Linked DNA regions of Homo sapiens: region 1 is linked to region 2. Evidence: fine-mapped expression QTL. A gene starts in region 2. The other region holds a variant in brackets. All regions are shown on one strand. Distances are from middle to middle.

The links. PIP is the estimated chance that this variant, and not a neighbour inherited with it, causes the effect. A credible set is the group of variants that fine-mapping cannot tell apart.
Region 1: its variant is the best candidate, but not a certain one, in a credible set for the expression of IQSEC3 in subcutaneous fat (FUSION, PIP 0.89).

What each region holds. Positions count from the first base shown.
Region 1 is chr12:126,467-130,848 of GRCh38, forward strand. All of the region lies in intron 3 of IQSEC3 (IQ motif and Sec7 domain ArfGEF 3), which reads left to right. Among named protein-coding and RNA genes, the nearest start is that of IQSEC3-AS2, 17 kb to the left of the region's middle. The variant T/A (reference allele first, on the strand shown) is at 2,559.
Region 2 is chr12:64,297-68,678 of GRCh38, forward strand. IQSEC3 (IQ motif and Sec7 domain ArfGEF 3) reads left to right here and starts at 2,471. Exons shown (of 14, transcript NM_001170738.2): 1 at 2,471-3,140. The coding sequence starts at 2,587.

The sequences.
Region 1 (4,382 bases), 62 kb after region 2:
CAATTGTGGGGCCCCCATTGAACCCCCAAAAAAGATAATGCCTCAGTTTGTCTTGGCAGACAAGAGTCTTGATGGAAGGTGTGTGTGTGTGTGTGTGTGTGTGTGTGCGCTTAGAGAAAGGTGTGATGGTGTGATACTGTTAAGGAAAGAGCTTTGAACTTGGAGATGTAGACATGGGATCCAGTCCTCGCTCTTCCTCCTATGAACTCAGTGACTTTGGGAGTTGCCAGTTAAACCCTCTGGGCATTCGTTTCCTCATCTGCAAAAAAATGAGAATTAACTTTGAATCACCTCCAAGGTCCCTTCTGCCCCAAAATGTGTAGGTTCTAGAGAACAATTCTTCAACCCAATAGGCAAGGTATCTTCAGAAAGGAAGCTAGTGGGAAGGCCACTAAGACTGAGTCAAGCCAAACTAACCTCCTTCCTCTCTTGGCATTGATGCCAAGCTCATATCCTGGCTCAGGCCAGCTGTAGGCAGCACATCAGTAAAGTGTTTGACCAAATCCCCCAAGATACCCTATGTGCACATGCCAGGAATGTGTGGATTACTAACAATATAGTAAGGAGGGTTGTTCTCAAACCGAATTATCCAAAAAATATTCATCAAAAAAAATCCCAGGGAGTTGAGTGGACATGCTGTCCAGGTCACTGATAAGGCACCAATTTGAGGCATACAAGTTACATTCACCTGGCTTTCTGATGACATAAAGCTGAAAGAGAACAGCTGATACCTTGGTGATAGCATCCCAGACTTTGTAAAAACCTCATCAGGGGCCAGGCGTGGTGGCTCATACCTGTAATCCCAGCACTTTGGGAGGCCAAGGCGGGTGGATCACGAGGCCAGGAGTTTGAGACCAGCCCGCCCAATATGGTGAAACCCTGTCTGTACTAAAAATACAAAAATTAGCCAGGCGTGGTGGCGCATGCCTGTAATCCCAGCTACTCAGGAGGCTGAGGCAGAATTCCTTGAATGCGGGAGGCGGAGGTTGCAGTGAGCCAAGATTGCACCACAGCACTCCAGCCTGGGCGACAGAGTGAGACTCTGTCTCAAAACAAAACAAAACAAAACAAAAAACACCTCATCAGGACAGAAGGATGGTTTTAATGAAAAAAAAAAAGTCGGATGAAATGTGGAAAAATCTAAAATTCTGCTCCCAGCTTCGAAAACCCCACAGCACTAGCATAAGACATTCAGGCCCTTCGCCCACTTTTTGAGAAGTGTCTGTTCATGTCCTTTGCCCACTTTTTGATGGGGTTGTTTGTTTTTTTCTTGTAAATTTGTTTGAGTTCATTGTAGATTCTGGATATTAGCCCTTTGTCAGATGAGTAGGTTGCGAAAATTTTCTCCCATTTTGTAGGTTGCCTGTTCACTCTGATGGTAGTTTCTTTTGCTGTGCAGGAGCTCTTTAGTTTAATTAGATCCCATTTGTCAACTTTGGCTTTTGTTGAACATGGCACACATCTATAGGAGACTGAACTCGACTCCTCTCTCTTCTGCCATGAGCTGTATGGCCTTGGGCAAGTTGCTTGACTTCTCTGGCCTCAGCTGCCTCCTATGTCTGGGACTTCACAGGCTCTTCCCTTGGCCTCAATCTCTGAAGTTTCCGCTCCCCTCCACACCCCTGCACTTGGCCTTCTCTTGCTTTAGTACTTGCTTTAGGTACCTCTTCCTCCTCTCAGGCAGTTTTCCCTGCCTCCCAAGCCTGCACTGGGTGTCCCTCTCAGTCATCCCACAGGGCCCGGGTGTCCCCGTCACAGCCCTTCAGCCCTGTGTCAGCATTTCCTGTTTGCTTGACCCCCTCCTTGAAGGCAGGTGCATGACTTGTTCCTCATTATATTCTCAGTGCTTAATGCAGTGCCTGGCGAAGAAGCTGCTGGAAGGATAAGAGACGGGAAATGATCACTTAGTGACATAAAGGGGGATGGGATGGGTATACAGCATGGCGCCAGGAACTGACTCTGCCTTAGGTCTCTTTGAGATCTAACACTTGATATTCCAACCCAGTGATTCCGCCAGCCACACTGAATCCCGTGTTCCATGGCCTGGGAGGGGTGTTGGACAATCTTAGCTCCCCAGCCCACCGACCCGCCAAGCCTCCTCTGTCAGCCAGTCCAGATCCCCAGGACGGTTTTCCTTGGCTGTTCTCCTTCCTTCGCCTCTGCTCTAGCCCCAAGCCCCACTGATGCTGCCTCTTAACAGTTCCCGAATCCCACCCTCTCTTGCCTTCCCCAGTGCCCCTGCCCCAGGAGGCCAGGCCATCCTTCCTCTTGCCTGCACGCCGGGAGACCTCCTGTGCTTCCCCTTCTTTGAGCTCTGTCCCTTCCAACCTCACCTCCACATTGCAGCTGAATCATCTTCCTAAAGTGCACCTCTGACCGCGCTGATCCTCGGGAAAGCCTCTGATGGCTCCTCACGGTGTGCAGGACAGAGGCCTCTCCAGGCTCCCTGCCACAGTCCCAGCCCCATGGGGGTTCCAGCCGTTCCTATTTGCTGTCCCGAATCTCAAGCCACCCTCACCTCTGGGCTTTTGTGTGGCTTTGTTTCCTCTCCTGGGGAT[T/A]CTCCTCACCTGTCCCCGACCCCATCTGCTGCATCTGGAAGACTTCTGCTCATACTTCAGGTCGCAGCCGAGGCACGTGCTTTTACCCATTGCCTGTTGCCTCCTCTGTGCTGTCTGGGAGTGGGAGCTGTTCCGCTCAACAGCATGGACCATGTTGTTCTCAGGGCTGTGTGGAGTTGAGCAGGTGGTGCTCGGGACACCTCCAGGGTGCTGCATAGCCCACGTGAAGAGCCAGCGCTCCTGGAGCTGTGCCCTGGGAACTGTCCTGTCCTTGCCCATCTTTGCCGCCCTGCACCTTGCACAGTCTTGGGCACCTAGGAACTGCTCAGCAGGGAAGGAACATAGGAATGAAGGCACAAGTGAATGAGCAAACGAGGCCTACCCTCCAGCTTCCTGTTCTCCCTGCTGGCCCCTTCCCCAGCACCTGTCACAAGTCGCACAGCAAGACGGTCCTCCTGCCAGCTCTTCTCCCCTTCTCCCTCTGCCTTCGACCCTCTCACCCCACCCCAGCAGTCCTGGGGGATACAACCTAGGGCAGGCCAAGGAGTGAGCATGCAGGTCCCTTTGGGGAGCCCTTTAGGAATAGAGGGCCTAGGTGTCATTTTGAAATTCCTCCAAGCCCTCTAGGGAGTTTGTGTCCTGTTGCAGAGCGACTGGAGCCCTTCTTAGCCATCTGAATTGCAGAGCCCTCTGGGCTGCTCAGGCCAGAGGGCTGTGGAGTTGCAGTCAGTAGAATCTGGGCCCTGCTCCCCGAGCCGGGTCCTGGACAGAAGCCATGTTCTGCTGGAGAGCAGCCCCTCCCCACAGATCCCCATACCCCAAGCCTCAGGGTCCAGCCTCACTATGGGGCACCTCTTCAGGAAGATGTGGTGGCTATGTTTCTAAGTCACTTTCCCTCTTTGCATCTTGGTTTCCTCATGTGTGAACCAAAGGCTGTACCAGAGGGCCTCCTGGCCCCTTCCCACGCTGAAAGTGAGATTTCTACCATGGGCACAGAGAGCACCAGGGCACCAGCCTACAGAGGACAGTGGTGAGGACAGGGCACTCCATGGGTTGTCCCTCTCCCCGGTTCATTCAGTTCAGGGAACAGCACTGCACAGCTGCTCTGTCGCAGGCCCTGTGCTAGGCCTGGAGATGCTATGATGCAAAAGATACAGGCCTAGTCATCAGGGTGCCCACAGCCCAGTGGTGGGCAGACACGGGGCCAGCACCAGTGTTACTACCTGAGCACTAGCTCTGTGTCAGGCCCAGGCTAACGGTTGCCATGTGTTATCTCCCCGGGTCTGCACAACGTCCCCGTGAGATTGGCACCATTACCGTCCCATTTCTGGAATGGGAAGATTAAGGCTGAGTGATGGTGATGTTAAGTAACTTGCCCAAGGACACAGTCCTAGGAAGTAATGCAGCCAAGACATGGACTCCGCAGCCCATGGTTTCGACCCTGTACCTTCCACCATCTCTTGGCATTACAGTGAGGAACAGGCCCCATGGAAGTGGCACACAGGGTCTGTGGAGCATGAGGAGGGCAGGCAGCCCAACCTGGGATCAGAGCCAGCTCCTGGGGCAGCCCCACTGGAGGGTCTCATGACCTCACTACTAGCTGAGCCATAGCGTGTCCCCCATGCCTACCTGGCTGCCCACTCCCAGGCAGGCCTCAACGCCCTGCGTGTCAAGCACTTGCTGTATTCCAGACAGCAGGCTGGGAGGAGGGCACACAGAGCAGGCATGAGTCCCCTGCCTTGCAGGAGGCCACAGCCCTGCCCAGCACAGACCCAAGGCTCCTGTGGGCCTCTCTGAACACCCCCAAAGCACCAGCTTCCCCAG
Region 2 (4,382 bases):
GGGGAGCTCAGCTCTTGAGACAGGAGTCTTGCCGATGCCCCCAGCCAAATAAACCCCTTCCTTCTTTAACTCGGTGTCTGAGGAATTTTGTCTGCGGCTTGTCCTGCTACAATATAGGGCTCAGAAATCTGCATTTTCAACAATCCGCATGGATAATTATGCTGCAGGCTGTTTCACTTATCGTATTCGTCTCTAATTTGCTGTCCAAGCACCCAATTCTTGGACAGCAAATCAACTAGGCAAACAAAGAAAATTCAGAAAAAAGAGTTTGAGTTTTTGTGTGCCCTTGTTTCATCCCCCAACCTCCATTCTTTAGCTGGAATGCTGGTCACTACCAAAGCATCCTCCTGTGTGCTGTTTCCCCTAACCGTGAGCTCAGCTGTGGATAAGCTTCCTTTATTCATTCTTTACCAAAGAAAGTTTGCTAGGAAGATAAATGGGAGAAAAGCAAAATAAAAACACATCAGGAATGCAGATAAACCAATATATGTGCAGAGCACAAGTTCCTTCTCATAAGGTCATTCAAGTCTGGCACCACGTGGTGGTGGGGGGTGGGCCAGCTCACTGGGCACATGGTACCCATAAATATGCCTACCCTGGGGGAATGGAAGGTTGACAGGGAGCCTGATGGACATGTGTGTGAAGAACGGAACAACACAATAACAAACATGCGAAGCGTACTCATAGCCCTTCCTCCTTCCCATCCCATTCCTATAAAAGAGGAAAGAACAACTCATTTCCTTCACGGGGCATGGTGGTATGCATCTGTAGTCCCACCTACTCAGGAAGCTGAGGCTAGAGGATTCCTTGATCCCAGGAGGTCAAGGATGGAGTAAGCTATGATCCTGCCACTGCACTCCAGCCTCGGTGACAGACAAGACTTTAAAAAAAAAAAAAAGTAAAGGAAAAGAAAAGGAAAGGGATATTTCCCTGCCAAATTAATTTAAACCAAGTGCTCTATTTCCATTCATTAGTTTTTTCCCTGCTGCCTGATGTATCTTTCTCATATCTGGCCCCCTGTTCTGTCTACCTGTTGAAATATTTCCCATTCTTCGTGGCCCAACTTGAGTAACACCTCTGTCAGAACTTATCAGATCAACACAGTCAAATGAATCCTCTCCCTCCCCTGAACTCTATGGCACTTGGCTTGAAGAGCTCTTACAGAAATCTTGAGTTGTGTTTTACTTATTCATGTGCATGGCATATCTACTCTATGAGATTGGAATCAACTTGATTATAGAAATGATAACTTATTATCTATGCTAGATGTGGCTTGCATAGATTCTGTACATTACTTTGCACCTAGTGAGTGGTGATTATTGTAGACATGAATGAATGATTCAATCGGTGCTGATTAATGTCTCTGAGCTTTTGCTCATGCTGTCTTCCCTTTATGGAAAACCCTTCCCACACCAAGGGTCACTTCCTGTAAGAAGCCTCCCTGGATCTCCAAGCTGCTGGCTCCTATAGCACTCTGGGCAAACCTCTGCCTGATTACTCACCACCACTATCATACGTCAAAGTTAATCATGACCAATTTCACCCACTTATTTATAAGCTTCAAAAAGCCTAACATTCCATTCTAGTCATGCTTCTCTTACCACCATCTAGCACAGTGTTTGGTAATAGTGTGCATTTTATAACTGTTTGTCAAATAGAATGATCTATTCAGAAGCTTCTGGAAGCGTTAGCCCTTGCCACAGAGGACCTCGTTTATTTAGTGTTTCTATCAGGAACTGCCACAGTTGTCTTGAGGTCTCACTCCCAGAGGAAACCCAGCATGAACAGCCTTCCCATCCCAAGTTTCGTCACGGATGAAGGAAGGAGCAGGACCAGACGCTCTTTAGGGTCCCTTAGAGCCCCAGGATTCTTGTGTTCCAGGGAATCCCCTGGCAGAATAGATTGCTGCGAGCAAAAGAGGCGAGTGTGGCCCCTCCTCAGCAGGTCTCTAGATGAACCCCAGCCTCTGGAAGGCCTGGACCTGGGAAAAAAGAATTCGCGTCCCTTCAGGGCCCCACGCCTTCCTGTCCTCCAGCACATTTCTCTTTCTTGGCCCCACCTTCCCTTTTTCTGCTTCCTCTCTGCTGGCCTCTCCCCTTCTCTTCCTTTCTTTTCTGTTTCTCTTCTCCTACAGGTCCCACCGCACCTTCCCAGTATCGCTGCTTCCCCTTCGCCTACTTCCCAGTCTGGCCAGTCAGATTCACCGTCCTTCTCGGGTCGCCTGCGTTATCTTGCTTTCCTCCCACGCCCCGACAGAGGCTCCCTCTCGCTGGCCTCCTCCCTCTCCTCTCTGCCCTGCAGGCAGCAGAGCCTTCGCTGACGCCAAGAGGCAGCGAGGTGGGGAGGCGAGGAGTTGGGGAGGTCTGGAGGTAGGGGGTGGGGTGGGGGTGGGGCCTTGCGCAGCCGCCCCGCCCCGCGATGCGTGTGTGAAGGTCGGGGTGGCAGTGACGCGGCGCCGGCGGGGGGAGGGAGGCTGGGCCGGTGGGAGAGGGAGGCGAGCCGACCGCTGGGCTGCTGGGCTCCCGCGCCCTCGCGCTCCCCGCCGCCAGCCCAGGCGCAGGCAGGGCGCAGGCGGCGGCGGGCGGCATGGAGAGCCTGCTGGAGAATCCGGTGCGCGCCGTGCTCTACCTCAAGGAGCTCACGGCCATCGTGCAGAACCAGCAGAGCCTCATCCACACCCAGCGAGAGCGTATCGACGAGCTGGAGCGGCGGCTGGACGAGCTGAGCGCTGAGAACCGCAGCCTGTGGGAGCACCAGCAGCTGCTGCAAGCCCAGCCTCCGCCCGGGCTCGTCCCCCCGTCATCGGCCCCGCTGCCGGCCGCTCCGGCCACCGCTCCTGCCGCCGCCGCCAGGGCCCAGGAACCTCTCCAGGACCAGGGACAGCGCTCAGCAGCCGCGCCGCATCCCGCGCCCGATCGGCCGCCGCGTCAGCACCACGGACAGCTCCTGGAGCAGCCCCAGCGGGGCCCTGGCAGCAGGGCTCACACACCCCAGTCGCCCCACAAGCATCTGGGGACACAAGGGGCCGTGACTGACAAGGAGAAGGAGCGTCCCCCGAGTTGCTGCGCTGCTGCCGGAGCCCTCCTTCAGCACAAATCCCCCTCCGCCCTCGGCAAGGGCGTCCTGAGCAGGAGACCTGAGTGAGCGGGGAGAGGAGATGGGCACTGTTGTGGTGGGAGCAAGGGAAGCAAGTGGGTGTGAGGGAGAGACGGGGACGTTGGGTGCGTAGGAGTCTAAAGGACCGGAGTGATGTGGCCTGAAGGCGCCAGAAGTGTGCAAAGGAGATTTTGGGTAAATGAGGGAACGATATCCCTGCTTGAGAAGGTTTTGGGGAATGCTGGAGCAAAAAGGAGTAACCAGACCATTAGTAGGAGCAAAGGAGGAAGGAGGTGGGTGTTAAGCGATTGGTGATACTGGGAACTGACAGCATTTAAACGGGGTTAGGCTGGGTTGAAGTTCGAGTGAAGATTAAACTGTAGAAAAGAGAACCATTGAAGGAATCTTTTTAAGTGAGAAAAAATTTGGAAGGAAGTTTGGGTAGTAAAAGTATTTGCATGGAGACTGAGATGTGAGAAAAGCTGAAGGCTTGGAAAGAGGCATGTGAAGAGCTTTAAAAAGGCTGGGGCCCAGGAAGAGTAGGACTGGGGTAGAGGGGAATCCAGGAGGCCGGGGACAAACCTGAAAAGCAGGAGTGATGTGGGAAACCAAGGGAGCTGGAGGCAGAGGAAGAGAAAATGTGGCTCTTTAGCTGGTGAAGTGGGAGCCACAGCTAGGAGTGGCTCATTTAGGGAAGCTTTCTCTTCTCTGACCTGATTGGACACCCTTCCTCTGAATTCCCGCAGAGCCGAAGAGGTGCAAGGGAACATCCCATCAAACCAATGGAGGACTCAGGCATGGCTTGAGGACTCAGTCTGGTTACAGCTTTTTCCTCCAACTCAAGGAGGGTTTTTCATACAGGGTGTTTGGCCGTTGTTGAAAGGGAGCAATGACATGGGGGACAGTTGGCAGATGGAGTTGGTATTCAGATGCCATGCCTGTTTAAATCTCCCTGTTAAGGCCAGCAACTGCAAACCCTTTTTTCCCGGTTATCTGGTGATCACTGAAATCTTGCCTTGGGTCCTGAGAGAAATGTTAACCTCTCAGTTCCTAGAACTTCAAGCTCTTTCTTCACTCAGGAGGTCCATGAACTAGGAATATGGGAAGAAGATATGAAAGTGTCTGGGATGTTCTCTCCTCTGTACTGGAAAGGCTGTGGCCATGTCTGCTTCTTTTCTCTGATTAGGCAAGTGATGGAGAACTAAACAAAGAACAGTTCAAGGGAAATTGTCCCTGGTCAGCACCTGACCTTGACAATGGTGATGCATAAGGGAATGGGGAGGGGG